Homo sapiens: one gene and its partner. The protein of the gene in region 1 purifies or fractionates together with the protein of each later gene. This does not show direct contact. Each region holds a gene or a part of one and is shown in the gene's direction. Other genes may lie near its edges.

Region 1 (16,563 bases):
AACTGTTTGGAGGTGGATTTAGGTTTCAACCATGGTCTTTCTGATTACAATATCCATGCTTTTCTCTTCATGCTACATTGTCAGTGCAAGGCAAAAGGAAGAACCCACGAAAAGACTAACTGCCTCTTCATGCTGCACTTCGTAGGGGCACAGCTTGATGAAAATGAGATCTGTCTTTAGCTTTGCCCGTTCATAAACTTTACTAATTTTTAGTTCCCCAAGGATTGTTTAATACTATGTTTGCAAAAATCATTTATAAGAAATGACATTTTAATAACTTTAAAAAACTTCTTGGGTTTATTGAATTTTTCTCCTTCCTATTCTAGAACAACTTAAGATGCTTTACTCTATATAGTATACGATATACTATATATACTTTATACATAGTATACTGAAATTTATTACAGTATATATGGTAAATATATTTACTGTATTTACATAGTATATATAATTAAATTTACTATAGCATTTATAATATAGTATACTATATATAGTATATACTATAGACTATATTTACTATACTATATACTATATATTTACTGTATGCTATATTTATATTTAATATATACAATATTTACTATATACTACATATAGTAAAGCATCTGAAGTTTTTATTATATATATAATATATATACATATATATGACACCAAAAGATAAAATAAGTAAATTGGTAAGATAATGAAGTAAAGCGCAAATAGGTTGAAGTTAAAACTGAGGTAGAGCACAATATGTTAGCCATGAATCCTATACATAATAGAGTGGGTCATAAATTTGGTTCTGATATTTTGTAACAAATTTACTTCTAAGAAATACAAGTAGCTATAAGGTGAAATGCATCTACAAAAAGAGTCAAATAATTTGCTTCCAAAACGTGCAACTACACCTCTTACTTAACCCAAAAGGAAATATATCCCATGGATCATTGACTCATTCACTCATCCATTTAATAAACATTTATTAAGGGGCTATCATGTACCAGATACTGTTTTAGGTTTTGGAGATACTTCTGTGGACCAAACAAGACCCTGTCTTTACAAAGTTAAGGAAGAAAGACGATAAATAAAGAAGTAATTGTATAGTATGTTTGGCGATGGTAAGCACTGAAGGGAAAATAATGGCAAGGATGACTATATGTGCCAAGATGGAGTGGGGTTGGGTGGTCAGGAAAGGCCTTACTGATAAGATTACATTTGATCAGATACCTGAAGGAAGTGATGGTGGTGGGTAGCTGAGGAGAAATCCAGAGTGTTCTAGGAACAATAAATCACAAGTGCATTGCTCCGGGAATATGTTTAGAGTTTTTGAAAGATATTGGGAAGCCAAGGAGACACAGTGTCCTTGGGGAGACCTAGGGAAGGAAATACTGGGGATCTTGCCTTATGTAGTAATAGCAACCTTATGCTACACAAAGTGTTCACATCATGTGATAAAAGCATATTTCTGCTTGGTAATGTTGAATATGTAACAAATTTCGCTCTGGGTTTTTTTTTTTTTTTTCTGGACTCTATTCAGACCACGGCATTATTATGAAGAAAACGAATCCTTGATGAGATTTGGGCTTCCTGATCTCAATACATTTCTTAATTACCTCTTAGAGGCTTTAGCATATGGTTATATTTTTTAAGTTGATTTTACTAGCAATTTTTATGTATTTGGGTACAAATATGTATTTAATAAAGCATTTAATTTGGCAAATATTGACTTTGCAGCTGACTTTCTGTGTGACTACAGATGAGACACAATCACTGAATCTCAATAAAAATTACATGTTTTTTTACAATAGCTGTCCTCTCTGCCTCACTAAGGTTTTATAGAGCTCTAACAAAATGATAAATCTGAAAGTAGTTTGAGACTTCATTGTAAGACCATCACTTTTTCTGATCTTCCCATGTTTGACAAACACGCCCTGGCACTTTGCAAGGGTCTATAAATACTGACAAATTGGGGTCTCTGTCCTTAGGGAGAATATAGCCTATTAGAAGAAACAGACAAGGAAACTACAAATGAGAAACGCTCTGGTACCGAGAAGAAAGAAGGATAGTCTGCATAGGAGAGGATTCAGAGTAAAGTTGAGGGACCATTTACTTCTCAGAGGTGAGCTGCATCCTAAAGAACTAGGAGGAATTATTAGGTAAGTTAGGAGGGGAAGGGCATTACAAGCATAGGGAACAGACTGTGCAAATGCTTGTCAGTTGAGAGGATTTAGTACTTGTTTCTTTGGTTTTTGTGGGAAAAATGAATATGTAGTATGATTGGTGGATATTAGGAAGTATAGATAAGGTGAGGGTTAAGGGAGATTCACCATCAAGAAATTTTATTTTGTAGTGGTGTAAGAAATCTTCATTAAGAAATTTTATTTTGTAAAGATTTTAAATGGGGATAGGTATTGCATGGTAAGACATACTCATTGGAAAAAATATGCTGGCAATAAAACGAAAAATTAGAAGGTGATACTGAGGAGTGAAGGCCAGTTGGAAGAATCTTACAGAAATTCAGGCAGGAAAAGAAGAGGGGTGAATTCAGATAACAGAAGAGAGAAAAGAGACAAGATAAAGAGAGATTTAGAAGGTATGACTGTTATTGATATTTGATTATGTGAAATGGAGGCAAAAAGATTGAAGAGCATCCATGTGGCATTTCCCAGCTTCCTGATTTGAGCAGCCCAGTGGATACAGTATTCTTAACTTGAAGCTTATAGTCCATTAGGGAGGGCAGTAGCTATTTGGAAAATCATATTTAAAGACTGCTTATTGAATAATTAGTACCAACCTTTAGATAATTATTTAGTGGTATTGTAAAAACTCTGTTCTTTTTACCTTTATCAATGAAGTAGGTAGAAATAATATAAAAAGGGTGCTTTTTTAAAAAAATCAAGTATATAGTTGAAGATATCTCAGTAATATAGCTAGAAAGGGATAATGTCAGAATTTTGATTCAGAATTATTTTTAATGTTTTACCTGAAGGGGACTGAGATGAACAAGATAAAGTGTTTAAAAGATAGATGTACAATCCACTATAGGTTGCATAAGTATAGATTAATAGAAACCTAATTTATTATTAGCAATATTAGGTAATAATATGGCAATTAACACTTATGTACTGCTTTTGATTTTCAAGAAATATTTTTCAAGTATTTTTTTTTATTTGAACTTTCAACAACTCTCTGAGTTGGGCCTTTTTTGTTTCATTTTACACGTAAACAAATTGAGGGTTAGAGAGGTTAAGTGTGAGAACAAACTTTCTGATAACCAGGCGTTATGAATGGAATAAGCTGCTTGTTGGCCGGTCCTCAGCACTGAAGAACTGTAGACAAAGCTGGATGTCTACCTGCTAGAGATGTTCCACAGTGTGCAATAGCTCTAGCAGGAGGGAGTTAGGGGGAGATGAGATTTTGCATTCAATGATGAGAGGATCATAGAGTATGAACCCTGACAAGAACCTGAGGCTAATGTAGTCTAACCTTTTCATTTTACAAGCGAGAAAACTGAGGCCCAGAAAGGTCAACTTGCTCAAGCTGATGCAAGCTCTGGAATCTAGCTGTAGGTCAGTGATCGCTAACAGTCATGCTAAACTGAATGATTCTTTGAGAATCCTGAGGAAAGAAGGAAAACGAGAAGAAAAAAATGAGTGGCCCCAAATGGTTGACATAATATCCTTAATTATCACATTTTTTTAATCCATAGGGAGAACGAATGTTCTTGAGGAGAATAAAAGTAGTTGGCAAGTGGTATATGTTTTTATGGTCAACAACATTTTTTAAAATTTATTTTTTATTTTATTTTATTTTATTTTATTTTATTTATTTATTGATCTTTTAGTATTTACAGGAAACAGAGACTACAAAGAGGTGTAAGACATGGACCTTACACCGCAAGCTCTTCCAAGCAATATGTGGTAGGCAGAATAATGGCCCCCAAATATGTCCACACCCTAATCCTCAGAACCTGTGATTATGAGGCAGGAGAACAGGGTCTGAAGGCAGGAAACCTAAGACCGATTGGCTCTGACTTCCTAGAACTGAATCAAAAGGAAAACCCCACCTCTCCACATCCAAGTAACAAAACGATCAGAGGCTACTTCCTTTGCAACTCCCCCCTCCACCCTTTTCTGCCGTTGCAGATGAAAAATGAAAGGACCTCCAATTGGTCTCCTCCTGCAACCAATCAGACTGGTTGCAGGCCAAGTCTTCATGTGTAAATTTGTAACTTCACTTCAGCCTCCAATTGGTCATTTTGCACCACCAGTCAGACTGGTTGCTGGCCACTACTTTATTTACATAGGGTTTAAACCAAGTAACAAACAGGAAACCTCTAGAGAGTATTTGAACCCCAGAAAATTCTGTAACCAGGCTCTTGAGCCACTTGCTCGAACCTGCTCAGTCTGTGGAGTGTACTTTTATTTTAATAAATCTGTGATTTTCTTTCATTGCTTGTTTGTGCCTTTTGTCCATCCAATTCTTGGTTCAAAACGCCAAGAACCTGGACACCCTCCACCGGTAACAATTATGCTACCTTTAATGGCGACAGTGACATTGTAGACGTGAATGGAGCTTCACAGAAGAAGATTATCCTGTGGGCCCAATCTACTCATCATGTGAGTCCTTAAAGGTGGAGAAACTTTCCGATCTGTGGTCAGAGAGAGCAGGACACACAGCAATGACAGAAGGGTCACAGAAACACACACCTGATGTGAGAGGACTCAACCAGCCACTGTTGGCTCTGAAGACGGGGGGATCAAAAAGGCTATCAACCAAAGAATATGGGAGACCTTTATAAGCTGGGAAAGGCAAGAAAACAAATTCTTCCCAGGAACCTCTAGAAAAGAATACAGGCCTGCTAATACCTTGATTTTAATCCACATAGAATTTTGTTGACTTCTGACTTACAGAACTGTAAAATAAAACATTTATGTTGTTTAGACCACTAAGTGTGTGGTAATGTGTTATGTTAGCAATGGAAAACTAATATATAAGGTAAAAAGAAACAACATATACATGGAAGCTTACCAATGATCAATATTCTCTAGGGTATACCAACCAGGGTTAAACATGAGGTCATATGAATAGTAATTTCCCATACTCTGTCGCCGCCTTTAGTTGGTTGCAGAACCTCTGTTGTTTCTTAAAAGATCTTTTCCCCAACTGTCCCTGAAGATCCTCAAGATAGTAGAGGACCTCATAAATTTTCACAATCCCAAACCCTAGCGGCTACATAGAATCCACTCTTTTCCTTGTCTTAGATTTCTTCTGGTGATGTCTATTGTTCTCTAAATGCCTGGGAACTCCATTTACATGCCAGGCATTGCTGCAGCAGTGACTCTACTGCTGACTTTGTTTATAATTTTCATCAGAGTGACTCTGATCCTCTGTGCCAGTGCAAGCCTTTCAGGTAAGCCTCAGGCCCATGTGGAGCTATCTCCTACTGGTAGCCACTGCTTGCCCTTTTGTGAAAGTTGAACTGCATTTCCAGATAAAGTTGGAAGAATTCACCTGCCCCGCTTTTGTGTTATATTCCCTTGAAAACAGTTCCAAAGCAAAGCTACCTTGTGTACACAAGGTCTCATACGGTTTTGTTGTTGCTGTTGTATTTTTCTGTGAAATAACTCTACCAGTTGTACTTGAGAGTCCCCTCTCACTAGGACTCTGTTATTGCATACGGGCTTGGCCAAAGGACATTGAGATGCAGACCCAGCGCTGAACCCCAAGCTATTCTTGTTAGTGGAAAATACCTTTGTGCTTTGATTTTCTTTTTTCTTATAATGAGTGACTTTCCAGGAATTCCTCCATGCCTTCCGTAAATAGATTCCACCCCACTAAACCAGTAGATTCCTTCCTCACAACTGCAGAATCATACAAGAGGGAATATACTAAGTAACACATGGATGGATGGCTTTAACAGTTTAGAGGAGCGCAGGATCTGGCAGTTAGGATTCATGTAGGCTAAACTGGAGAAGGAAGAGATCTCCAGTGTATATTTCAGTGTGACTTCCCACTACCGTTCAGTACTTAATCTGGACAGAGAGATAATGGGCATTCAACAAATTCCTATGGAATTAATAATGAGGCAGAAATAACGATCTGGTAGAAACACTGGGGCCAAAGCATTGTTGACAATGAGTTGGAGGCTTATAAATTTGAGATGGAGGTAATAATTGAAATTACAAGGGAATGAAAACTTGAAGAAAAAAGAGAAATAATGGATATTCTAACCATCTTATTAATGAGTATAATGTGTGGGACTAGCTATACATATATAACTCCTGGTGAATGTCTGCTGTGTAACTCAGACTATTTGGTACTTAGTTGTTTCTGTGTGTGGGCATTATCATTTCCAGTGTTTTCTCTAACTCAAAATGTTTTTAATGTATAATTTATGTGATTTGCTCAAAAAAATTGGAGAGAAAAATTTTGCCTCCCCTTTCTGGATTGTATTTTGGTTTCTTTTTTAACTTCTATTTCTATAATAGTAACTAGATTTTAGACAAAATTCTGTGCATCAGAATGAGTATCTAGCAATACATTGCAGAAATTTTAAAAATGAGTAAACCACTTTATCTGTCATGGAGGAGCATGCTTGGGGAGGTAGAGTAGAAAATTACATAATATGAAGTTCCAATCAGTTCATTTGGATTTGATGTATCACTTATGACATAAAGAATCTAAAGAACAACTAACTGATGAGATGTCTTCCTTTCCCCTTTTGAGGTAAAATTCACATAACATAAAATCAACCATTAGCCATTTAAAAATGAACAGTTCAGTGGCATTAAGTACAATTCATCCTGTTTTTAAAAAGCCCTGAAGGAAGTGAAAATGCCAATAGAGAAAGCTCTAGAGAACTGACATACCTCAATCTCTAAATATGCCACATTACATTGACTCAAGTTCTTTTTGCTCTAATGACTGTCAGTTTGTGTTTGGTATGCGTTCAATGCTGAATAAATTGGTCACATATTCAAGTTACCTATGACTCTTATTTCTTTAATTGAATTTGTATTAGGTGTTAATATCTAACAGAATTCCTTCAGCTATCTATTGTCTTAAGTATTTTCTATTATTTTAGTTTCCATGTGGACGGGTAACATAACTACCTTGTTCACTGTTTCCCCAGAGGAGAACCCAGGACATAATGGGATATATGTGTGTGTGTGTGTGTGTGTGTGTGTGTGCGCGCGCGCGCGCGCGCGGGCTCTAAATGAATGATCTATTACGTAATCTTGGGGTTTTAATTCTCATTAATTCCTTATAGGTTCCCCCACGTCTCCGCAGTGGTCAGTACTTTTTTTTTTCTTTTTTTTTTTTTTTTTTCTGAGACGGAGTCTTGCTCTGTCGCCCAAGCTGCAATGCAGTGGCACAATCTCGGCTCTATGCGATCTCTGCCTCCTGGGTTCAAGAGATTCTCCTGCTTCAGCCTCCTGAGTAGCTGGGATTATAGGCGCCCGCCATCACGCCTAATTTTTGTATTTTTAGTAGAGACGGGGTTTCGCCACGTTGGCCAGGCTGGTCTCGAACTGCTGACCTCAGGTGATCCACCCGCCTTGGCCTCTCAAAGTTCTGGGATTACAGGCGTAAGCCACCACTCCCGTCCCTTCAGTATTATCTTGTAACACCCCGGCAAAGCCTTCAGGTGGAGAATGTTCCTGGCGCGGAATAATCCACCTGAATGTGAATCCTGACCATTTTTAGGCGCCAATGGAGGCCGCTGCTACGGGGCCGGCCGTGAGGTGGCGCTGTTGCCCTGTATCGTGACTCCGTTTTCACCTGGACTGGAGTCACCGTGATACCTGACATCTAGCAATCACTAGAGTAGGAAATGAGTATAGATCAGCAACAAGTCCAGCCTTTACAGTTGCAGCAGAGGTTTCCTGTGGCTCGAGTGTGGCGAGTCCCGGAAACCTCGGAGCCCGCAGACTTCCCTTCGCGGGAGCCCGCCCGAACTCCATCCTTTGCCGGCAGCCACGCCCCGCAGTGGGAAGGAGGGACTGAAAAGCATTTCCTTGAGGCTGGCACACCTTGCCCTACCCAACCCTGTCATTATTTCCCCTCCGACTGGGCCGGTGCCATCGGAAACCGGAGTGACCAGAGGAGGGACACGGTAGTGAACGGGGTATGGGGGGCGGGCGCGGCGGGGAGGGTAAAGAAGGTGGGAAGGGAATGGCAGCGAGGCAGCTGGGGGAGGACTTTGCAGTTGGGGAGGGAGAAAAAGGGAAGAGGCTGGGAGCGGAACGGGTGTTTATGTGAACAAACAGAAATCACCAAGTGAATTAACCTGTGTTTCTTCGGAACCAGCATCTTGTGGGGTTTGGCTTCTGTGTTTCTATATGATAAGGGAGTAAACCTGACTCAGCAGATTTGGTGCAGAGAGAAACATGAGAAAACCCAGGAATGGGGGACCTCTGTTTATTCCTGGAGAGGGGGCCATCAGGAGAGGGGGAAGGGAAAGAATGAGGTTACAGGAATTACTTGTCAGAGGACTGCATAGCCTTTCAGACCATGGAATCGTTGCTTTCAGCTTCGGCTTCCTCATCTGCAAAGCATAAATACGGTAATTACTTTCCAGGGTTGTTGCGATATTTAAATGAGATATCAATAACCATGCTTTAAAAGTGTACAGCCTGATGTGCTATCCCTTGTTGACTGAATCTCTGTTTTCTTTCCTTCTTTTTATTTGGGGTGGGGAGTGGGGGAGGGAGTCTTGCTCTGTCACTCAGGCTGGAGTGCAATGGCGCGATCTCGGTTCACTGCAACCTCCGCCTCCCAGGTTCAAGCGATTCTCCTGCCTCAGCCTCCCAAGTAGCTGGGATTACAGGCTCCCACCACCACGGCCGGCTATTTATTTTTTTGTATTTTTAGTAGAGACGGGGTTTCACCATTTTAGCCTCTGTTTTCTTTTCAATGTCTTTTTTCCTCTTTCATTTTTCTCTATCAACCCTTCATCCCCCCTTTCTTTCTTTCATTTATGCGATTGTTGCTTCCTTCTGTAATGGGTCCTCTCCACATTGGAGTTTCTTATACCTATGAGACCACACTTCCTTCCCACTCGGTGGGAAGTAGTGGCAATAAAGGAGTCGAGTTACTGTAATGTGCAGCACAGCTCAACTGAAATACACCTGGAAACAGAACTCTGTGCTGTCTACCTGGTTTTTCCCCCTCAATGCACCGGAATCTCCACTGACAGCTAGCTAGGGGGCAGCTAGGTCTTTCAATGAGACATCATGAAGTATTTGCTTCAATGAAAATCATATACTTTTTCGTTCAGTGCCTCCATTACTGTGTGAGTTTGCTAGGGCTGCTGTAACAAGGTACCACAAACTGCATGGCTTTTGGCACCAGGCACCAGGGACTGATTTTGTGGAAGACAATTTTTTTCACAGATGCCGATGAGGTTGGCGGGAGATGGTTTCAGAATGAAACTGTTCCACCTTACGTCATCAGGCATTAGAGTCTCATAAGGAGTTCGCAACCTATATCCCTCACATGAGCAGTTCACAATAGGGTTCACGCTCCTATGACAATCTAATGCTAGTGGGCACGGTGGCTCACACCTGTAATCACACCACTTTAGGAGGAGTTGGTGGGTGGATCGCCCTGAGTTCAGGAGTTTGAGACCAGCCTGGGCAACTTGGCGAAACCCATCTCTACCAAAAATACAAGAGGAAGAAAAAGAAAGAAAATCTAATGTCGTGGCTTATCTGACAGGAGGAGGAGCTCAGGAGGCAATGACAGCGATGGGGAGTGGCTGTAAATGCAGATGAAGCTTTGCTGGCTCACCTGCCTCTGATTTCCTGCTGTGCACCCCGTACCTGTCGGCGCCCCGGGTGTTGGTGACCTCTGGCTTAAACAACGAAATGATTTTCTCACAGTTCAGTAGGCTGGCTATCCAAAACTAACATGTTATGAAGCCTGCATCTATTCCAGGCCTCTTTCTTTGGCTTGTAGATGGCTGTCTTGATGTTTATATGGTGTTCTCCCTGTATATATGTCTCTGAATTTCCCCTTTTTATAAGGACACTAGTCTTATTGGATTAGGGTCCATCCTAATTACCTCATTTTAATTGATTATCTCTGCACTATCATCTCCCAATAAAGTTACATTATGAGTTACTGGGGGTTAGAATGTCAGCATATTAATTTTGAGAGGGTGTACAGTTCAACCCTTTAACAACTAATGTCTTTAATTATGCACAAGTTAGTTGAGCATTGCATGTATTTCAGTTTTCTCTGGCAGAAACTATTTCCCACCTGTCCCAAACCCTCACAACCAGTCCCAACCAACATGTGCTCCGAAGATCTGCCAGGAGTTATGTGATTCTGCAGCTCTGTTTTCTTTTAACCTGAGTGTGTACATTTCCTGTTGCCACTGTAACAAATTACCACAATGGTGGTGGCTTTAAACAACATAAAGTTTTATCTTACAGTTCTGGGGGTCAGAAGTAAAAATGGATGGGCAGGTTTCCAAATGGATGGTTCTTTTTGGAGGCTCTAAGGGAGAATCAATTTCCTTGCCTCCTTCAGTCTCTAGAGGCTGCTACAGTCCTTGGCTCATGGACCCTTCCTCCATCTTCAAAGCCAGGAATGGCCGGTAAAGTGTTTCTCATGTCTTATGCTGACGCTCACTTTTGCCTTTCTCACACTTAAGGATTCTTGTAATTGCACTGGACTCACTGAGTATTCCAGGGTAATCTTTCTATTTTAAGGTCAGTTGATTCATTCCATCTGTAACCTTAATTCCCCTTCGCTATTTCAACGCTATTAAAAATCAACATGGCCAGGCGTGGTGGCTCACGCCTGTTAATCCCAGCACTTTGGGAGGCTGAGGTGGGCGGATCACGAGGTCAGGAGATCGAGACCATCCTGGCTAACAAAGTGAAACCCCATCTCTACTAAAAATACAAAAAATTAGCTGGGCGTGGTGGCGGGCGCCTGTAGTCCCAGCTAATCAGAGGCTGAGGCAGGAGAATGGCGTGAATCCAGGAGGCGGAGCTTGCAGTGAGCTGAGGTCGCGCCACTGCACTCCAGCCTGGGCGACAGAGCCAGACTGTCAAAAAAAAAAAAAAAAAAAAAATCAATATATTCATAGGTTCTGGAGATTAGGACATGGACATCTTTGGGAAGCCATTATTCTGCCTACTGTACCTGAGCTTTCCCAACTGGGTATTCTTTATTTTTATTATATGTATATTTAAAATTTATGTTTAATTAAAAAAATTAAAAATTATATATATATTTATCATATACATGTTGTTTTGAAATATGTATATATTGTGGAATAGTTAAATTAAGCTAATTAACATAGTATTATTTCACATATTTTTGTGATGAGAACACTTAACATCTACTGTCTTAGCAATTTTCAAGAATACAATACATAGTTATTAACTGTAGCCACCATGTTGTACAATAGATCTCTTGACCTTATTCCTCCTAACAAGGAGGAATAAGGTCATACCCTTTCATATCCTTTGACGTCTTTCTAACCCCTCGAATTCCCCCAACCTCTGGTAACCATCTTTCTATTCTCTACTTTTATGAGTTCAACTTTTTCAGATTCTACATATAAGTGAGTTCCTATGATATTTTTCTTTTCGTGCCTAGCTTATTTCACTTAACATAATATCTCCTGGGTTCATCCATGTTGTCAATTTCCATTTTTCAAAAGGCTGAATAATAGTTCATTGTGTTTATACTGTATGTATTTATACTTTATTCATTTATCCATTGATGGACATTTACATTGATTCCATCTCTTGGATATTGTGAACAATGCTGCAATAAACATGGCGTGCAGACAGCAGTATGTGAAATCAGACACACTGATTTCATTTTCTTGCTATCTATACACAGAAGGCAAAACATTGAGCCTTCAGAATAAAAGTAAGATAATATACTGAATAAAGAACATTATATACAAAAGTCAGATCACTATTGGATGTATACCGAATAGTGGGATTGCTGGATCATATAGTAGTTTACTTTTAATTTTTTGAGGAACTTTCATACTGTTTCCCTAACGGTTGTACTAATTTACATTCCCACCAACAGTGTGCAAGCATTCCCCTTTCTCTATATCCTCTCCAACACTTATTTTTCATCTTTTCGATAATAGCTATTCTAACAGGTATGAGGTAATAGCTCATTTTGGTTTTAACTTGCATTTTCCCTGATGATCAGTGATGTTGAATATTTTTTCACATATGTGTTGGTCATTTGTGTGTCTTCTTTTGAGAAATGTCTATTCAGGTCCTTTGTTCATTTTTAGTACAGTTATTTGTTTTCCCCCTATTGTTTTAGTTCCCTATGTATTTTGGATATTAATCACTTACCGGATATTAATCACTTCTCAGATATTTCTACCATTCCATGGGTTATCTCTTCACTCTGTTGATTTTTTCCTTGGTTGTGCAGAAATTTTTTAGTTTGATGTAACCCCATTTGTCTATTTTTGCTTTTGTTGCCTGTGCTTTTGGGTTTATGTCCAAAAAAACATTGCCTAGCCTAATATGATGGACCTTTTCTCTGTGTTCTCTTCTAGTACTTTCACAGTGTCAGATCTTACATTTAAGTCTTTAATCCATTTTGAGTTGATTTTTGTACATGGTGTTCTTTATTGAGTATATTATCTATTTTTATTCTGAAGGCTCAATGTTTTGCCTGCTGTGTATAGAAAGCAAAGAACTTTAAATCTTTTTTCTGAAGAAAAACAACCTGCTTAATGATGGAACAAAAAATGTGTCCCTATCGAACAGAAACCTGGGTACCATGTACTTGCTATATATACTGTTAAAAACTACTCCCCATTCCCCCTTGTACTTTTAGTATTATAGCTTAATCCTTTATGCCCCATTAGTTTCTATAGGTTATTTTTCTATAAAAATTTCTTGCAGATCCAATGCTATTTTCATAGATGAATTAGCTACTTATTTATTCAACAATCATATGAATTCTGATATATGCCAGACACTGCTCTTGGTGCTAGGGATACAGCAATGAACAAAATAGCTGGTCCCTAAACTTTTATTCCCATGAAGGTTTCATGCTTTTTCTTCTTCCTTTGCCAGTTCATTTTTGTCCTCCCCACCAGCCCAGGCTCAGCCAGTCTCTAGTTCTCCAACATGCTTTCTGAATTTAGATGTGGCTACTGTTCTGTGCCTACTTCTGGGCTGGGCTAATGAGGGACCTAAAGAAGCTGACTGTGCTCTCCAGGAAATTAAAGTCTTGTTGGGAAGAAACAGATAATAATAGGCAAACTGGTTAAGTACTGAATAAGTAGGTTGGGTATTAGATATCATGTCTTGGCATAGTGTCTAACTGGAGAAAGTGAAAGTAGAAGGGAACGAATGTGCACAAAGGTAAAGAAGCTAATTACGGCTGGGTGCAGTGGCTCACACCTGTAATCCCAACACTTTGGGAGGCTGAGGCGGGCGGATCACCTGAGGTCAGGAGTTCGAGAGCAGCTTTGCCAACATGGTGAAACCCCATCTCTAGTAAATATACAAAAAAAAAAAAAAAAAAAAAAAAAAAGCCAGGTGTGGTGACAGGTGCCTATAATCCCAGCTACTCGGGAGGCTGAGGCAGGAGATTAGCTTGAACCTGGGAGGCGGAGGTTGCAGTGAGCCAAGATCGTACCACTGCACTCCAGCCTAGGCAACAAGAGTGAAACTCTGTCTAAAAAAAAAAAGAAGAAGAAGTAGAAGAAAAAACAGCAGCAGCAGCAGCAGCAAATTACACAGACAGACAGTGTAGAGTGGACAGAGTCCTCTCTCAGTCCGGGGGACCTGAAATCCGTTTTAAGCTCTGGTTCTCTCTTTGTGAGCAAACAGCAAGGCACCTACCTCAGGGGTCCTTAGTTGTTTTATTATTATTTTTATTCCTTTTGAAAAATGGAGGGTAGAGTTTGACTGGGAAATTGCTGGAGATTCTTCCAGGTTAAAAAAAAAAGTATTTTATTGTTGAACTTCTCAGAATTTCTTTGAGATTTCTAACCAGAATAATAATAAGATAGTTTAGAGTTTAGAAGAGACAGTCACCTCTGGATACAGAAAGGATAATGGGGATGGAGTAAGGGGTTTCTATCCATCCGTTGGCTTAAAGCCTCATTTCCTGCAGTTGTTCTCACCTCCTCAGCCCAGGTGTCCTTCTTCACTAGCTTTTCTTCCCTATACCTTCTGCTGAATTGGGCAGTTAGAGTTCAGCCCTATCATATTGTGAATACTACCTCCTAAGGGTGAGTCTTCAGGAAACATAAACATTTCCTGATGCTCACTCTTTCCTTAGCCCCCAGCAGTCTAAGTCGTATCCAAGCTTCTGAGCATTATGTGCTTCCCTGAAAGCCATCTCAATCAGTTTTCTCATATTTCTCATTCATAATAACCCTTCTTGGCATAGTGACAACAAGGAATATCAACAGTTAATTTGTTTTGTTTTGTTTTTTGAGATGGAGTCTTACTCTGTTGCTCAGGCTGGAGTACAGTGGGATGATCACAGCTTGCTGCAGCCTTGACCTCTCAGGCTCAAGTGATCCTCCCATCTCAACCTCCCCAGTAGCTGGGACTAGAGGCATGCACCACCACGTCCAGCTAATTTTTGTATTTTTTTTTTTTTTAAGAGACAGGGTCTTGCTGAAGACCCTGGCTAACCAGGCTGGCCTGGAACTCCTGGCCTCAAGTGATCCTCATGCCTTCATCTTCCAAAGTGCTGGGATTACAGAAGTCAGCCACGGAGGTCAGCTGACAGCTAATTCTTAACAATTGACATGGTCAGAGCAAATCGAAGGTAGTGTTTTAACTTTTATGACCCCAAATTTATATTTTTATGCTTTAAATTACTGGCTAAAATAAAAAATGAAAAGGAAACCTGTTTTAGTTTTTTCCTCTGTAGCTGTTAACCTTTATAACCTCAATAACTAGCTCCATCTTTATACATTTAAGGGTATTTTTAAAAATTGTTAGATAACAGTATATAGGAATATGGTATTTTTAGAATATTGATCTAAATTAAAATTATGTATATAATTCTAGGCTAAGTTAGAATTCTAGTAAGACACAGTAGTAAATGCCAAAGGTTTAAGGGAAAAAACATGTTTCAAACTATGCATTGTGGTTATAGAAAAATCTCAGTAATACACATGTGTACTAGTCCTTTCTCACACTGCTATAAAGAACTGCCCAAGACTGGGTAATTTATAAGGAAAAGAGGTTTAATTGACTTATAGTTCCTCTGCCTTATAAGTTTCCTCAAGAAACTTATAACCATGGCAGAAGAGGAAGCAGGCACGTCTTACATGGTGGAGGTGAGAGAAAGCATGTGAAGGAAGCAAAGGGGGAAGAGCCCCTTATAAAACCATCAGATCTCGTGAGAACTTATTCCTATCACGAGAACAGCATGGTGGAAACCGCCCCCATGATCCAATCACCTCCCACCCGGTCCCTCCCTCGACATGGGGGGATTACGGGGATTACAATTTGAGATGAGATCTGGGTGGGAACACAGAGCCAAATCATATCAACATGTAATATCCACATATGAAGTCAGGTGCCTTTCTGGAAAAAGCCTTGAAATGATTGGTTTTAGTTGTACACTCAGACATTGAATGATTTAACCAGATGTACTGTGTTGTGGGAGATGAATGCAGGGTTTGTGTTGGACAACTTTAGGAGACAGTATTATGTTATATTCATATTATGCTACCAAATAAGTGGTGAAAAATATTTGCCAAAGGTGCTAATTTGGTGTTTAGAGAAGTTGATCTCAAGTGCTTATTTTTTCTGACAATAGTCAGCTATCAGGACCAATTGTATGTCAAGTCACCCCTAGTTTGTGTCAGTGAAAAAAGGCTTAAAATCAACTTCTCCAAAGTCTCTGTTAAGTCAGATCAGGCTGGCTTCACTTAGACAGGAAAAGCTCCTGGTTGACCCTCACCTACATGCTCTTTGACACCTCTTCAGCCTGGGCCCAAATTTAGTACCACTTCTGGCCAGTAAGAAGCTATAACAGCAAGAAAGGACTTGTTTAGTGGTAGAATTAACAGGTTTGGCTTAAGGAAGGAGGAGAGAGGCAAACGGAATGCTGAAAATTGATCCTGACTTCCCTGTGGTGAGATTTATTCTATAAGACTTATTCGCAGATTCCACAAATCCAGCCCATCTGATGTGAAACCACATGGCTTCCCTGACTCCTACTTCTGTGGTCTTTCCTCACAGGGCTCAAGGCCTGGCTCCTTTAACTTACCTTGGGGCTGATATCTTAGTATAAGTCAGAGTGAGTTCTGGCTGAGGAAGAAAAAAGAAGCAGAGTATTAATTAGAATATTCTTAAAGCTCCATCAATGAAAACACAGCTGGGATATAAATATTGTAGCCTTCATGTATCTGGTAGAGATTGGCAGAGGCTAGTCTGGACACATGTGCATCCCAAAGTTCCAGAAGAAACTGTGACAGTGTATGCACATTGTGAATTGCAAGGGCCAGGATCTTCTTCCTGGTTCTCATCCCTACAAAACTCAACTGAAAAAAATAGATGGAATATCCAGTCAGCCTTATGAAGGGTGGGAAAGTGTAGTGGGAAG
Region 2 (13,320 bases), on another chromosome or scaffold:
CCCTTTGTGTGGAAGGGACACAGGGCAGGAGTGGGTACAGAGAACACCCAGGGCTTTCCGAAAAAAATAGCCCAGGCCTCCCACAGATGAGAGAGGAGCTATGTGGTTCGGTAAACCTCAGTTCCAGCTACAGGCAAATGGGATTAACTGAGCACTTACTGTGTTGGGGCCCTGGCCTAGCCCCATGCATGCCAGAGCCCTCCAGATACTGCCTGGCCACCCTGCAGGGTCCTATCAGATCTCGAGTCTCCAAAAGAGGAAACAGGCTTGGGGTCATAAGGGAATGAGGTTAGCAGGGGTGGTAATCCCACCCAGATCTCTCTGACTCTCAGATCACGGGTTTTTTTTTTTTTTTTTTTTTTTTTTCTGAGACAGGGTCTCGCTCTGTTGCCCAGGCTGGAGTGCAATGGCACAATCATAGCTCACTGCAGCCTCAAATTCCGGGATTCTCATGTGATCCTACCGCCTCAGCCTCCCGAGTAGCCAGGGCTATAGGGACGTGCCACCATGCCTAGCTAATTTTTAACTTTTTGTAGAGATAAGGTCTTGCTATGCTGCCCAGACTGGTCTCAAACTCCTGGCTTCAAGTGATCCTTCTGCCTCAGCCTCCCAGAGAGCTGGGATTACAAGCATGAGCCACTGCGCCTGGTCCCCAACTGTGCTCTTAATCATAGCTCATTTCTCTTAGTGGAGCCACGGGGGAAGGTGGTAAGGGGGCTTAAGCGGGAGCTCTATCCCTCATCTCTTTTTTCTCTTTCCCAGAGACCACACCGCTGTTCCAGACCCTCTCCATGGATGATGTCCTGCCCCTGATGCCTTGGGAGACCCTGTTGGCACAGGGCAGTCCCCAGGGCTCGCCTGACCTCCCAGCAGGGCAGCGGAAGCAGCAGCCACAGGGTGACAGGGCCCAGGGCCTGGCCTCTGAGTCCTGGAAGCTCCTGGAGGTGCCCATCATTCACATAACGCCATCCAGTGATGGGGAGTCCCCCGCCTGCACCCCAACCCCCCGACGCCGGCAGCAGCAGAGGATGCCAGACCCGCAGAGTCTGTCCCAGGACAGGTCAGACCTGGGCAGTGGGACAGGAAAGAGGGTCTCTCTGTCTAGGGAGGGTTCTCTCTGTCAAGGGTGGGTTCCTTGTGGCTGCGGGTCAGAGCACAACCTTAGCCCCACAGAGGGCTGACTCAAAGCCACGAAACAGATGCACAAACAAAAGGTAAAAACTGAGGGTGTGCGTTGGGACAACCAGCTATGACTGAGCTCAGCTGAGTTCTGCCTAGTAAGAGTGGAGGGGAAGCCGGGCGTGGTGGCTCACGCCTGTAATCCCAGCACTTTGGGAGGCCGAAGCTGGTGGATCACCTGAGGTCGACAGTTCAAGACCAGCCTGGCCAACATGGTAAAACCCCATCTTGACTAAAAACACAAAATTAGCCAGCGATGGTGATGGATGCCTGTAATCCAAGCTATTCAGGAGGCTGGGGCAGGCGGTTTGCTTGAACCTGGTAGGCGGAGGTTGCAGTGAGCCGAGATTGCGCCACTGCTCCAGCCTGGGCGTCAGAGCAAGACTCTGTCTCAAAAAAAAAAAAAAAAAAGAGTGGATGGGTGGAGAGGGACCCCACCCAGTGTTTTTCAAACTGTAGGTCAAGACCCATTTAAGGGCCATAAAACTAATACAGTGAATTGCAATCAGCCCTTGTTTTTTGTTTTTTGTCTTTTTCTTTTTGAGACAGCATCTCTCTGTCACCCAGGCTGAAGTGCAGTGGCATGATCTTGGCTCACTGCAACTTCCATTGCTCCCCCCTCCACCCAGCAGCTGGGACCACAGATGTGCACCACCACACCTGTCTATTTTTTTTGTATTTTTAGTAGAGACGAGGTCTGACCATGTTGCCCAGGCTGGTCTTGAACTCCTGAGCTCAGGTGATGCACCCTCCTCGGCCTCCCAAAGTGCTGGGATTGTGAGATGAGGCACCCGGCCGCAATCAGCACTTCTTTATCCAAATCAAAATAAAATAGAATTGCAAATAACACCATGCGTGAGGCCTAATGAGGGTAAGTGTGGTTTCTTACAACTTCTGTGGCATTATGTGTATTTCTAAGTGCGTGCTGGAAGCCCATGTGAAAGGTATTTCCTGCTGTAGATCACAGGCCAAAAAAACAAAAAAAAAAAAAAAAGAAGAAGAAGAAAAACAAAGAAAAAAAGAAAGTTTAAACAAAACTTCTGAAAAGAAACACTATCTCTGGTACAAGGAGACAGGAAATGGGAGGTTCAGGGCCATAGGGGGAAGAGGAAAGAACTCTACCGACCCTGAATAGAACAAGCAGCCACTGTGGTTTCTTCCAACAAGGGACACTCCATAAGCGTTAAAGTTTAGGAAGCAGAGCTTTGTGCATGGATGTGGAGAAATCGCAGAAACAATGATAATGGGGGACAGCAAGTTGCAAATGAAACAGAGGGAGCCTAATCGTGTATCTTTTTAAAAAGATACTGGATAATAGGTGATAGTGTTGGTGGATGCCTCCTGATGTAGAAAAAGGACAGAAAAGTACACAGGGTCCAGGCGTGCTGGCTCATGCCTGTAATCCCAGCACTTTGGGAGGCCGAGGCGGGCAGATTAACCTGAGATCAGGAGTTCAAGACCATCCTGACCAACACAGTGAAACCCCATCTCTACTAAAAATACAAAAATTAGCCAGGCATGGTGGCGCATGCCTGTAATCCCAGCTATTCAGGAAGTTGGGGCAAGAGAATCGCTTGAACCGAGGAGGTGGAGGCTGCAGTGAGCCAAGATCGAGCCACTGCACCACTCCAGCCTGAGCGACAGAGCAAGACCTTGTCTCAAAAAAAAAAAAAAAAAAAAGCGCAGGAAGGAAACACACCAACTGCATGGCAGGCAGAAGGCTCCTTGGGGGGCACGGGAAGGGAAAGGAGGGATGGGGAGCCAGGCCTTTGGTTGTAAGTGTAATCATTTATTTCTTTTAAAAAAAGGACCTGAAGCAAAATGGCAAAATGTCCACATCTATTCTATATAGGTACAGGGGACATAGAGGACTGTTATATTTTCTTCCTTTTTTTTTTTTTTTTTTTTTTTGAGATGGAGTCTTGCTCTGTTGTCCAGGCTGGAGCGCAGTGGTGCGATCCTGGCTCACTGCAACTTCCACCTCCCGGGTTCAAGCAATTCTCCTGCCTCAGCTTCCTGGGTAGCTGGGATTACAGGTGCAAGCCACTACACCTGGCTAATTTTTTTGTATTTTTGATAGAGATGGGGTTTCACTCTGTTGGCCAGGCTGGTCTCGAACTCCTGATAGGTGATCCACCCTCCTTGGCCTCCCAAAGTGCTGGGATTACAGGCGTGACCCAACGCGCCTGACCTGAAATAAATATTATTTAATTAAAAAACTAAAAGCATTACACTAGAAGAAACAGACCAAAGAGAAATCTAAAGAGATCAGTTGGACAGAGGAAGGTGGTGGGAGGAGGGCCTCTCTTCCATTGGCCGGTGGGAGGCAGCAAATGTCAGATGGTGGATGGGGGTTTTAGAGGTGGGGGTTAGCATGAGAGGTAGGGCACGGCGATAGGGGGGGTGCTGTCCATGCAGAGGGAATAACCAGTGCAAAGGTCTTGGGGTAGGAGGCAGGAAGGTGCCTGGTGAGTTAGAAGAACAGCGGGTAGGCTGGATGGGGGGTGTGAGCCAGGGGGAGATGAGGAGCTGAAGTCAGAGAGCTGACAGGGGCCTTGGGTGCCAAGGTGAGGACTTTGCTTTTACCTGGAGTGAGGTACAGCTGGGGCAGGGCTCTGAGCCAGGAGGGTAGTTAACTGACTCAGGTGGTCCCAGGCTCTCTCTGGCTGCAGGTGAGAACAGACAGTAGGGGCAGGGATGGGAGCAGGGAGATCAGGCAGGAGAGGATGGAGGCTGGGCCAGGGCGTGGGCAGCGGAGGAAGAAGAGTTTAGAATGGAGCGATTGATTTTATACGTGGAGCCCACAGTTTGTGACGGATTGGATGTGGTGTGAAGGAAAAGAGAGGGTCAGAAAAGACTCTGAAGTTCTGGGCCTGCCATTCATCAAAATGGAGAAGTCAGGTGGGCTTCTTTTGCAGGAGGAGGGGAAGGGTTGATGGAGAGGGTTGGGAAGGGAGTTTTTTCAAAAGAGGCGGGGACAGCGTACCCTGGAGAGCGCTGGGGAGCCACAGCCCCGGAGCTGTGAGGTGGGACTCGCATTTCTGTGTGGTTGGGCCAGGAGTCCAGGACACCACCTGACTCTGACCTCTTGCAGACGGGGCGGGGGAGGGGGGACGCAGGTTATGGCGTCAGAGCAGGATCGAATCCAACTCTGCCGCCTACCTACCAGGTGACCCCAACAAGTCACTTCCCATCTTAGAGGCCGGGCTTCTCCTTCCGTAAAAGGACTGATTTTGCCCGTTCCTGCGCTGTCCCCGGGAAAAGCCCTTACCACCGAGTTAGTGGGACTCCCAGCACTGGGGTGATGAGCGCAAGGTCTCAGCACAGATAAGAGCCAGGGAGGCTGGATTCTGACTTGGTACTTGGCCTGGCTGACCAAAACTGGGAAGTCCCTAGAAACGGAGGCACCGGACCTCCTGGGACCAGGAACCCGGGCTCAGAGACTGGGAGAGGGAAGGAGGAGGCGGCCAACCGGCCCCACCCCTTCCCGCCAGCTTCAGGCCCCCTCCCCCATACATACACCTCGGTTTCCCAGCATCTCCAGTCCTCCCCCACCTTCGCCCCGGCTCTCAGGTTCCTCCCTGGGAGGTCCAGGAGCTTCTGGCCAGGGGCATAGTAGTTGCTAGGGACCCTTTTCTAGGTACTAGGGGAGGGGGCTCCCCAACCTGCGGGCAGGCAGCTGCCTCCACGATGTTTGGTTTTAATAAAGTCTCTTTGTTTCCTTCTCTGTCTCTCTGCCCCTCTGCTTTCCCTTCTCTGTCCAGTCCCTCTCTCCCCGGCTTCTCCCTCCTTCTAGGCCTCTGCGGCCCCTCCCCGCCTTCCCTCCCGGGCTGGGGGCGGCGCCGTGACGCGGCGGGGCGGGGGAAGGAAGGGGGTGTCGCTGACGCCGCGGCGGCCTCCGGCGGCTCCGGCCTTTTGTGCGGGCGGTTGGGTCGGGTGGGGGCGGCGGCCGCGGAAGGCCAGGCCGGTGCCCTGCGGGGACGCCCAGCGCAGCCCAGCCCCGCGCAGCCCAGCCCTGCCCTGCCCTGCCCTGCCCTGCGCCCGGGGCGCGCCCACCGCGCCGCATCCATGTTCGAGTAAGGACCGGGCGACTAGAGCTCAGGGACCGGGCGCGCGGGGGAGGCCACCGGAGGGAGGGGGCGCCGCGGGCTTGGGGAGGGGGCGGAGCGGCCGCTGCAGAGGTCGGGGGCCTCTGCACATGGCTCTGGCCGGGGCGATCGGGGTGGGGGCGGGGCAGGGGGCCCCCGGGCGAGGGGTGCAGCTGGGGAGTGGGGCGCGGACGCAGGGCAGGGCCCGGGGTCTGGGTCGCCACTGCCGGCCCGCGACGCACTGGGTTGCGGGGTTTGGCTGGGGGCCCGCGGGTTCATCTGGCGGGGAGGGCCCTCAGGCCTGGCAACCCCCTGCCTGGTAAGCCAGGGGTGAGCGCGAGGCCGAACTGGGGCTCCGGCCTGGGATGGAGACAGGATCGGGACCAGCCCAGGCCCACAGGCCGCGGAGCCCTGGGCGCGCCGGGAGTAGGCAGCCCCCTCCTGCCTGGGCCCCCTCCCACCGTCCTTGGCTGTTGCGGGTCTCGGGGCTGCCGGGGGTGGGGGCTTCCTGCGTCTCTCCAGGACCGCGTGCTTGAGGTCATGGAGGGCGGGGGGTCCTGTGTGCTCGGAATTGACTTCTTACTCCCCTTCCGGTCCAGGTGGGCGCATGTGCTTCCGACTGTGAATTGTCTTGCAAGTGTGTGTACGTGTGTCTGGGGCTGCTAGCCTGCAGCAGCTTTGGGCCTCTGATAGAGTTCCTGCGTGTAACTTAACCACTAATTCTGACCGCGGCTCTGTGTGTCACTGTAAGTTACCTGTGTGTGTCTGGGGCTCCAAATCTGTGGCTGTGAGCAGCTGGTTGTGTGCGTGTTGTGTCTCATTCCATCTGTAGCTCCCTGTGCAAATATAAATTACCCCTGTGTGTCTGAGTGTGACGTTGGAGTGTTTGTACATGTGTCTGGAGTTACCGTGTGTAGCAGCTCTGATCCTTCTTGGGCTGTGTGTGTTTTACCATTAATTCTATCTGTAGCTCCAAGCGTTGCTGTAAGTTACCAGTGTGCGTCCCATTGTGACTTAGTGGTGTGTGTACAAGTGTGCCTGGGGCTCTGGGTTCTACCATGACCCTCTGTGCCTGCATATGCCTGTAATTTAGCTCTGAAACGCTCTTCTTTTTTTTTTTTTCTTTTGAAATAGAGTCTGGCTCTGTCGCCCAGGCTAGAGTGCAGTGGCACGATCTCGGCCCACTGCAACCTCCTCCTGCTGGGTTCAAGCAATTCTCCTGCCTCAGCCTCCTGAGTAGCTGGGATTACAGGCGTGTGCCACCACGCCTGGCTAAGTTTTGTATTTTTAGTAGAGATGGGGTTTCACCATGTTGGCCAGGCTGATCTCGAACTCCTGACCTCAGGTGATCCACCCACCTCGGCCTCCCAAAGTGCTGGGATTACAGGCTTAAGCCATCGCGCCTGGCTTGAAACTCTCATTTAGCTCTGTGTGCCAATGTAAGTTACATTTGTGACATTGTTGTGTGTCTGGGGCTCTGTGAGTGTGGCTGTAACTTAATTTGATTCCATCTTTGTGTGAACATTCCCTTGTGTATTCCTTTGTGACAGTATTGAGTGGTGCCTAGGCCTCTCTGTGTACAGCTGAGACCCTCTGTGGTTTTGTGTGTGTGTGAACAGTGTGAGACCCCTTGTGGCTCTCTGTAGGCTTGGAACCCTCCCTTCTAAGACCCTGGGAGTACCCAGGGCACTTTGGAGGCAATAATGATAACTGACGTTGTCCACCTGTTACAGTTAGTATAGCATGTGCCACGCATTATTCCACTACCTGGCCACTGTGTCCTCGAGATCCACGCCCTGCTCGGCTGCATTATTCCCAAGTCCTGCTTGACTGTGAGCATCAGGGCTCTCCACCAGCTACAGCCACTGACACCTCCACCCCTTGCCACTTTACTTTTTCTTTTCCTTTTTCTCTTTCTTTTAGACGCAGTCTCGCTCTGTCGCCCAGGCTGGACTGCAGTGGCACGATCTCGGCTCACTGCAACCTCTGCCTCCTGGGTTCAAGCGATTCTTCTGCCTCAGCCTCCCTAGTAGCTGGGATTACAGGTGCGTGCCACCACACCTGGCTAATTTTTGTATTTTTAGTAGAGATGGGGTTTCACCATGTTGGCCAGGCTGGTCTCAAACTCCTAACCTCAGGTGATCCACCCGCCTCGGCCTCCCAAAGTGCTGGGATTACAGGCATCAGCCACTGCGCCCAGCCCCTTGCCACTTTAGAAGTAGCCTTTTCTCTGTCTTCCCTGCCAGATGGTGAGCCCAGTGCGGGCACGGGAACAACTCAGTGGGGATGTGTTGGCTGACCGTGGGACCTGATTTACCTGGGACTATGTATGTGTCACCTGGGGTCTTTTGGGACTGGTCTTTCACTGTATGGCTGTCTTTGGCTCTTTGCTGAGACTTCCTCGTGGCTATGTGTGTGAATATAATTTATCCGGGACTTTCTGTGGGTTGCTGTATGTTTCTGTGACCCTCTGCAGCTCTGTGTCTGTGTGCACACATGCATGTGTCTGGATAACTTTTCTGGGAAATTGCCATGTGACTGTAGCAGACTAGCAATGCTGCAGGTGTGTGTGTGTGTGTGTGTGTGTGTGTGTGTAATTACTCTGTGGCTCTCTGTAGCATACCTATGATGCTGTTGCTCTGTGCGTGTGTGTGTGTGTGTGTGTGTGTGTGTGTGTGTGCATATGAGAGAGAGAGAGAGGAAAGAGACTCCTTGCAATTGTAGGGAAATGCAGTTTACCCCTGACACCTACTGTGTGACAATCATTGAGTTTCCCTTTTATGCACACCTGTGGATGCATCCGCCCTTTTCTGACCAGAGGCTGCTCTGGGTCCACTGGGGCCTAGGAAGTTGGAGGTCAGGTGTCTGCGGAAGCAAAACAACATCCCTTCCGAGTCTCCTCGCCCCTATAACAGTCCCCCAGGCTCCTCCCTTCACTCTGCCTTCAGCTATCCTGGTTGGGCAGCCGCAGGGTCCGCCCTTGAGTACTTCCTCTTTGCCCAGCCCTGGAGCAAAAACTGGGGGCGTGGTCCCTGCCCTGTCTGTGTGCCTTGAGCCTCTCTTCAGGATTCCGGCCCCCAGGCCCTGCCCCTAGATCTGTGGCTGCGGGAAAGTAGGGCAGGTCTGTGTTTCAGGCTAGAGGGCTGAGAAAAGCAGGCAGGGGAGGATGTGGTCCTGCTGCTTAGGAGTCTCTCCCTGCTCACCAGTGCTGTCTGGGTGAAGCCAAACTCCTGACTAGGGTCACCAGGCCTGTGCACCTCCGCTACTCCCTCAGCCCCACTGGCCACCTCACTCACACTCAGACCTGCCAGGCTCAGTCCTGTCCCTGAGCTTGATGTTCTCCACCTGGAGTCTTCTCCCAGCCTTTGCCACATGTGTTCTTTGTCCTCAGGTGAACAAGTGGGCTTTGTTCAGGAAGGCTTTTGCTGACTGTTACTAAAGAAATTGGTTGGGCACAGTGGCTCATGCCTGTAATCCCAGCACTTTGGGAGGCCAAGGTGGGAGGATCACTTGAGGTCAGGAGTTTGAGACCAGCCTGGGCAACATAGCAAGACCCCATCACTACAAAAAAACTTTAAAAATCAGCTAGGCATGGTGGTGTGAGACTGTAGTCCCAGCTATCAGGGAAGCTAAGGCTGGAGGATCGCTTGAGCCCAAGAGTTCGGGCCTGGAGTGACCTGGGAGGCTGAGGATTGAGAATTCCTTGAGCCCAGGAGTTCGGAGCTGCCGTTAACCATGATTTTGCCACTGTACTGCAGCCTGGGTGACAGAGTGTGACCGTGTCTCTAAAAAAAATTTAAAAAGCATCTCTGCCCCCCTAGTTGTCCCATCCCTTATCTCTGTGGTCCTCAAACTTGAATGTGCGTCGGAATCTCTGGCCCCACCCCAGTTCTGATTCAGAAGGTTGGGAGTGGGTCCTGGACTCTGCCTTTTGAACACTTTCCAAGTCCTGCCTGCTGCTCTCTGGGGCTCATACTGAGCAGCATTGCTTTATGGCGTTCACCAGTGTCTGAGGTCGCCATCCCTGCTCACTTGTTTTCTTACTGACGGTCTATGTTTCCCTGTTTCAGCGTCAGGTCCTTGCAGGCAGGGGCTTGTATGGGCTTTGCTCACTTCCTTGTGGCGGGTGCAGGGTATTTAGAGGTGAAAGGCTGGAGTTGAGGGTCAGTCATGGAGGCGCCTAACATCAGGCGTAGTGCTTGTGAGGTCCCTGTCAGGGTCAGCAGAGCGTCATGGGCAGTGGTGCACTGGGCTGGCAGCCGCGCTGTACACTCCATCTTAGTCCGCCAGTCCCTGTGGGAGGGAAAGCAGCGTAGTTAAACCAGGTGCCCTCCAGGTACTGGGCTTTGTGGATCTCACCTCACCTCCATCTCTGTGCAACCCTAGGAGGTGGGCACTAATTCCCATCATACCCAAGAGGAAACTGAGGCACAGGAGGGTTCAGACACTAGCTCAGGGTCACACAGAAAGGACGCGGTGGCACTTGACTGGAAGGTCCTTGGACTGTGGGGCCCACACTCCAGGCTGCTGCCCTGGAGACCTGCAGGGTCCAAGGAGTCGTGCACCTGCTGGAACCCAAGTTCTATGGGGGGCGGGGAAGGAGGGCCGATCACCCAGGCCATCCCCAACAGTATGTGCTCACGGAGCACCTCCTGTACGCCAGGCCCTGCTCTAGGTGATGGGGACACTCAACATCGTGGGTGGGGGTTGGGGGTGGGGAGAGAAGGATAAGAACTAGGGGGAAATACTGAAGGTCCCGGGAGGCAGCAGGGAGACTTGCTTTGCAGAAAGAGAGCAGGGAGGGGGATCGGGAGGCGGGGTAGGGGGTGTTAAATAGGGAGGTAGGGAAGGTGTCCACTGAGCAGAGACCTGAGGGAGGTGGGGGAGCCCTGTGGATGTGGATGTGGATGTCTGGGAGGAAGGGCATTTTGAGCAGAGGCACCGACCAAGGCGGGAGCTGGGAGAGGGAGTGCAGGGCTGATGAGGGCAGAGAGGGACCACCCAGGAGGACCCTGATGGACTCAGATGATCCCAGGCTCCCTCCCACTACAGGTATGGGCAGGGATGGGAACAGGGAGACCAGGGAGGAGGCTGCTGGGATGGCCCAGGGGAAAAGCAGTGGCCTGGGCCACTGGCTGTTTAATTATTTTATTCACGTATTTTATTCCACAAATTTATTTTACAAGTGTTACATGAGTGCCTACCCTGCATCCTGTCCCGCATTGTGCTGGGGACAGAGCAGTGACCCACAGACCCGTGAAGGACTTGGACCTGTCATCAGACAGTGACGGCCCAGAGTAGTCCAGGATGGGAGCTGCCCAGGGGACTGTGGGGTCACGCATGAGCCAAAGTCCTGAAGGACAAATAAGGATTTGCTAGGCAAAGAAGAACTACGATCTGGACAGACAGAATGGCATATGTTAAGGCTTGGAGGTAAGAGAGACAACTTTGAGTTGCCCCAGGTGGTGGAGGGAATCCCACCTGCACCCCAGAATACATCAAGGCCCCTAAATGGGAATCCTGCCTTGAAATAAACCAAGCCCATGGCCAGGTGCAGTGGCTCACAGCTGTAATCTCCTAGCACTTTGGGATGCTGAGGCAGGTGGATTGCCTGAGCTCAGGAGTTCGAGACCAGCAACGTGGTGGAACCCTGTCTCTACTAAAATACAAAAAATTAGCTGGGCATGGTGGTGGGTGCCTGTAATCCCAGCTACTGCGGAGGCTGAGGCAGGAGAATCACTTGAACCTGGGAGGCGCAGGTTGCACTGAGCTGAGATAGTGCCACTGCACTCCAGCCTGGGTGACAGCGCGACTCTTTGTCTCCAAAAAATAAAGAAAAAAGAAAGAAACCAGGCCCGTATCCTATGGCAAGTGGTTTGCCGCTTTGAGCTAGTTTCCTCCTCTGTAAAGCAGGGATGGTGAATCATATCAAAGGCACCGGCTTGAGAAATAATACGGTTAATCATACGGAGAGCTTGACATATTTCCTGATAAGGAGTCAACAAAGAATGTCCTTTTAAAGTTCCCAACGCCATCCCCACAGTCCTTATTACAGTTCGTGTTTGCACAGTGAAGTTGGGAGTGTCCTGTTTGTTCAGTGTCTGCCTCCCCACCAGAAGGCTCATTCCCCAAGGGCAGGGGCCATGTCCTGCGGGCTCTACTGATGCCAGCTCCAGCCAGCGTGCAGATTATTCATTTAGCCTCTGGTGGTTATTGAGCATTCACTATGTGCCTAGAGTTTTGGGCTCTAGGGACCCGGTGGTAACCAAGACCTGAAGGTCACAGTCTGGGTAGACAGTAAACAAACAGTAAACAAGCAGGACACTCCAGATAGCCTGGGGTGTGGCGACAGAGGTGCCTGCCTTAGGCTGGATGATGCGGAAGGAGAGCATTTGAGCTGAAGGGGACAGAGCTGGTGATGCCGGGGCCATGGAAGGACATTCAGGCGGAGGGACTACAAATGTGGAGGCCTTGGCGTGGGAATGAGATTGGAGAGCTTAGGGACAAAAGCAGGCTGGGATGGCCAGGGGAGAGGAAGGACAGGGAGAGGGAGGACATGAGGTCAGTGAGGTTCCAGGGCCAAATCACCACACCAAGGTGAGGTCTTTGCTTTTACCTGGAGTGAGGTGCACCCAGGGCAGGGCTCAGACCTGACTCAGATGGTCACAGGTCTCCTCTGGTTGTAGGACACCAGTGAAGAGGCTGCTGGGGTGTCCAGGCTGGAGGTGATGGAGGCTGGAGCAGGGAGAAATGGGTATAATAAAAATAACGGATGCTGGGTGCGGTGGCTCACGCCTGTAATCCCAGAATTTTGGGAGGCCGAGGTGGGCGGATAACCTGAGGTCAGGAAGGAGTTCAAGACCAGCCTGGCCAACATGGTGAAACCCTGTCTCTACAAAAAATGCAAAAATTAGCGGGGCATGATGGCGGGTGCCTATGATCCCAGCTACTGGGGAGGCTGGGGCGGAAGAATCGCTTGAACCTGGGAGGTGGAGGTTGCAGTGAGTCGAGATCATGCCATTGCACTGCAGCCTGGGCGACAGAGAGAGACCCCATCTCAAAAAAATAAAAATAATAGAAATAGAGCTGGGTGCAGTGGCTCACACCTGTAATACCAGCACTTTGGTAGTGCCCAAGGTGGGAGGATCACTTGAGGTCAGGAGTTTGAGAACAGCCTGGGCAACATAGCTAGACCCCATCTGTACAAAAATTTTTTAAAAATAAAAAAGCTGATAACAGTGGTGTGTACCTGCAGTCCCAGCTACCCGGGAGGCTGAGGCAGGAGGATCACTTAAGCCCGGGAGCTCGAGGCTGCAGTGAGCCGTGATTGTGCCACTGCACTCCAGCCTGAGTGACAGAGCGAGACCCTATCTCTAAAAAGAAAATAAAAATAAATAATGGAAATAGATTTTGAAATGAGAGATGAAGAAAATAAAGAAATTAAGAAAGATGCTTAGGGTTTTAGCTCCGACAACTGAGTGGAAAGTCGCTGTTCAATAAATATTTGTTGTATGAATCAGTAAGTTAATTTTAAAAATAGGAGGTATAGGCCAGGCGCGGTGGCTCACACCTGTAATCCCAGCATTTTGGGAGGCTGAGGTGGGCAGATCACTTGAGGTCAGGAGTTCAAGACCAGCCTGGCCAACATAGTGAACCCCCGTCTCTACTAAAAATACAAAAATTAGCCAGGCATGGTAGTGTGATCCTGTAATCCCAGCTACTCAGGAGGTTGAAGCAGGAGAATCTCTTGAACCCAGGAGGCGAAGGTTACAGTGAGCTGAGATCACACCACTGCACTCCAGCCTAGGTGACAGAGTGAGAGATTCCGTCTTAAAATAAAATAAAATAAAACAGCAGGTGTCTTTGAGAGCTCGCTATGTGCCATGCTCTGTTAGAATTACTTTACATGGGCTGGGCACGGTGGTTCATGCCTGTAATCCCAGCATTTTGGGAGGCTGAGGCCAGAGGATCACTTGAGGCCAGGATTTTGAGACCAGCTTGGGCAACTTAGGAAGACCCCGTCTCAAAAAAAATTAAAGTAGGCTGGGCACGG

The links.
Region 2: the proteins of STYK1 (region 1) and GRAMD1A purify together in Homo sapiens (affinity purification with mass spectrometry; 2 studies listed by BioGRID and IntAct, with this or other methods). This does not show direct contact.

The regions. Positions count from the first base shown.
Region 1 is NC_000012.12:10,665,498-10,682,060, reverse strand, and holds the start of STYK1 (tyrosine-protein kinase STYK1), read left to right. Parts: upstream 1-8,008; 5' UTR 8,009-8,095; exon of another isoform or gene 8,096-8,545; intron 8,546-14,605; exon of another isoform or gene 14,606-14,772; intron 14,773-16,563. UniProt on the Homo sapiens protein: Probable tyrosine protein-kinase, which has strong transforming capabilities on a variety of cell lines. When overexpressed, it can also induce tumor cell invasion as well as metastasis in distant organs.
Region 2 is NC_000019.10:34,995,232-35,008,551, forward strand, and holds the start of GRAMD1A (protein Aster-A), read left to right. Parts: upstream 1-5,091; 5' UTR 5,092-5,247; coding exon 5,248-5,255; intron 5,256-5,902; exon of another isoform or gene 5,903-6,013; intron 6,014-10,100; exon of another isoform or gene 10,101-10,319; intron 10,320-10,453; exon of another isoform or gene 10,454-10,677; coding exon of another isoform or gene 10,678-10,700; intron 10,701-13,320. UniProt on the Homo sapiens protein: Cholesterol transporter that mediates non-vesicular transport of cholesterol from the plasma membrane (PM) to the endoplasmic reticulum (ER).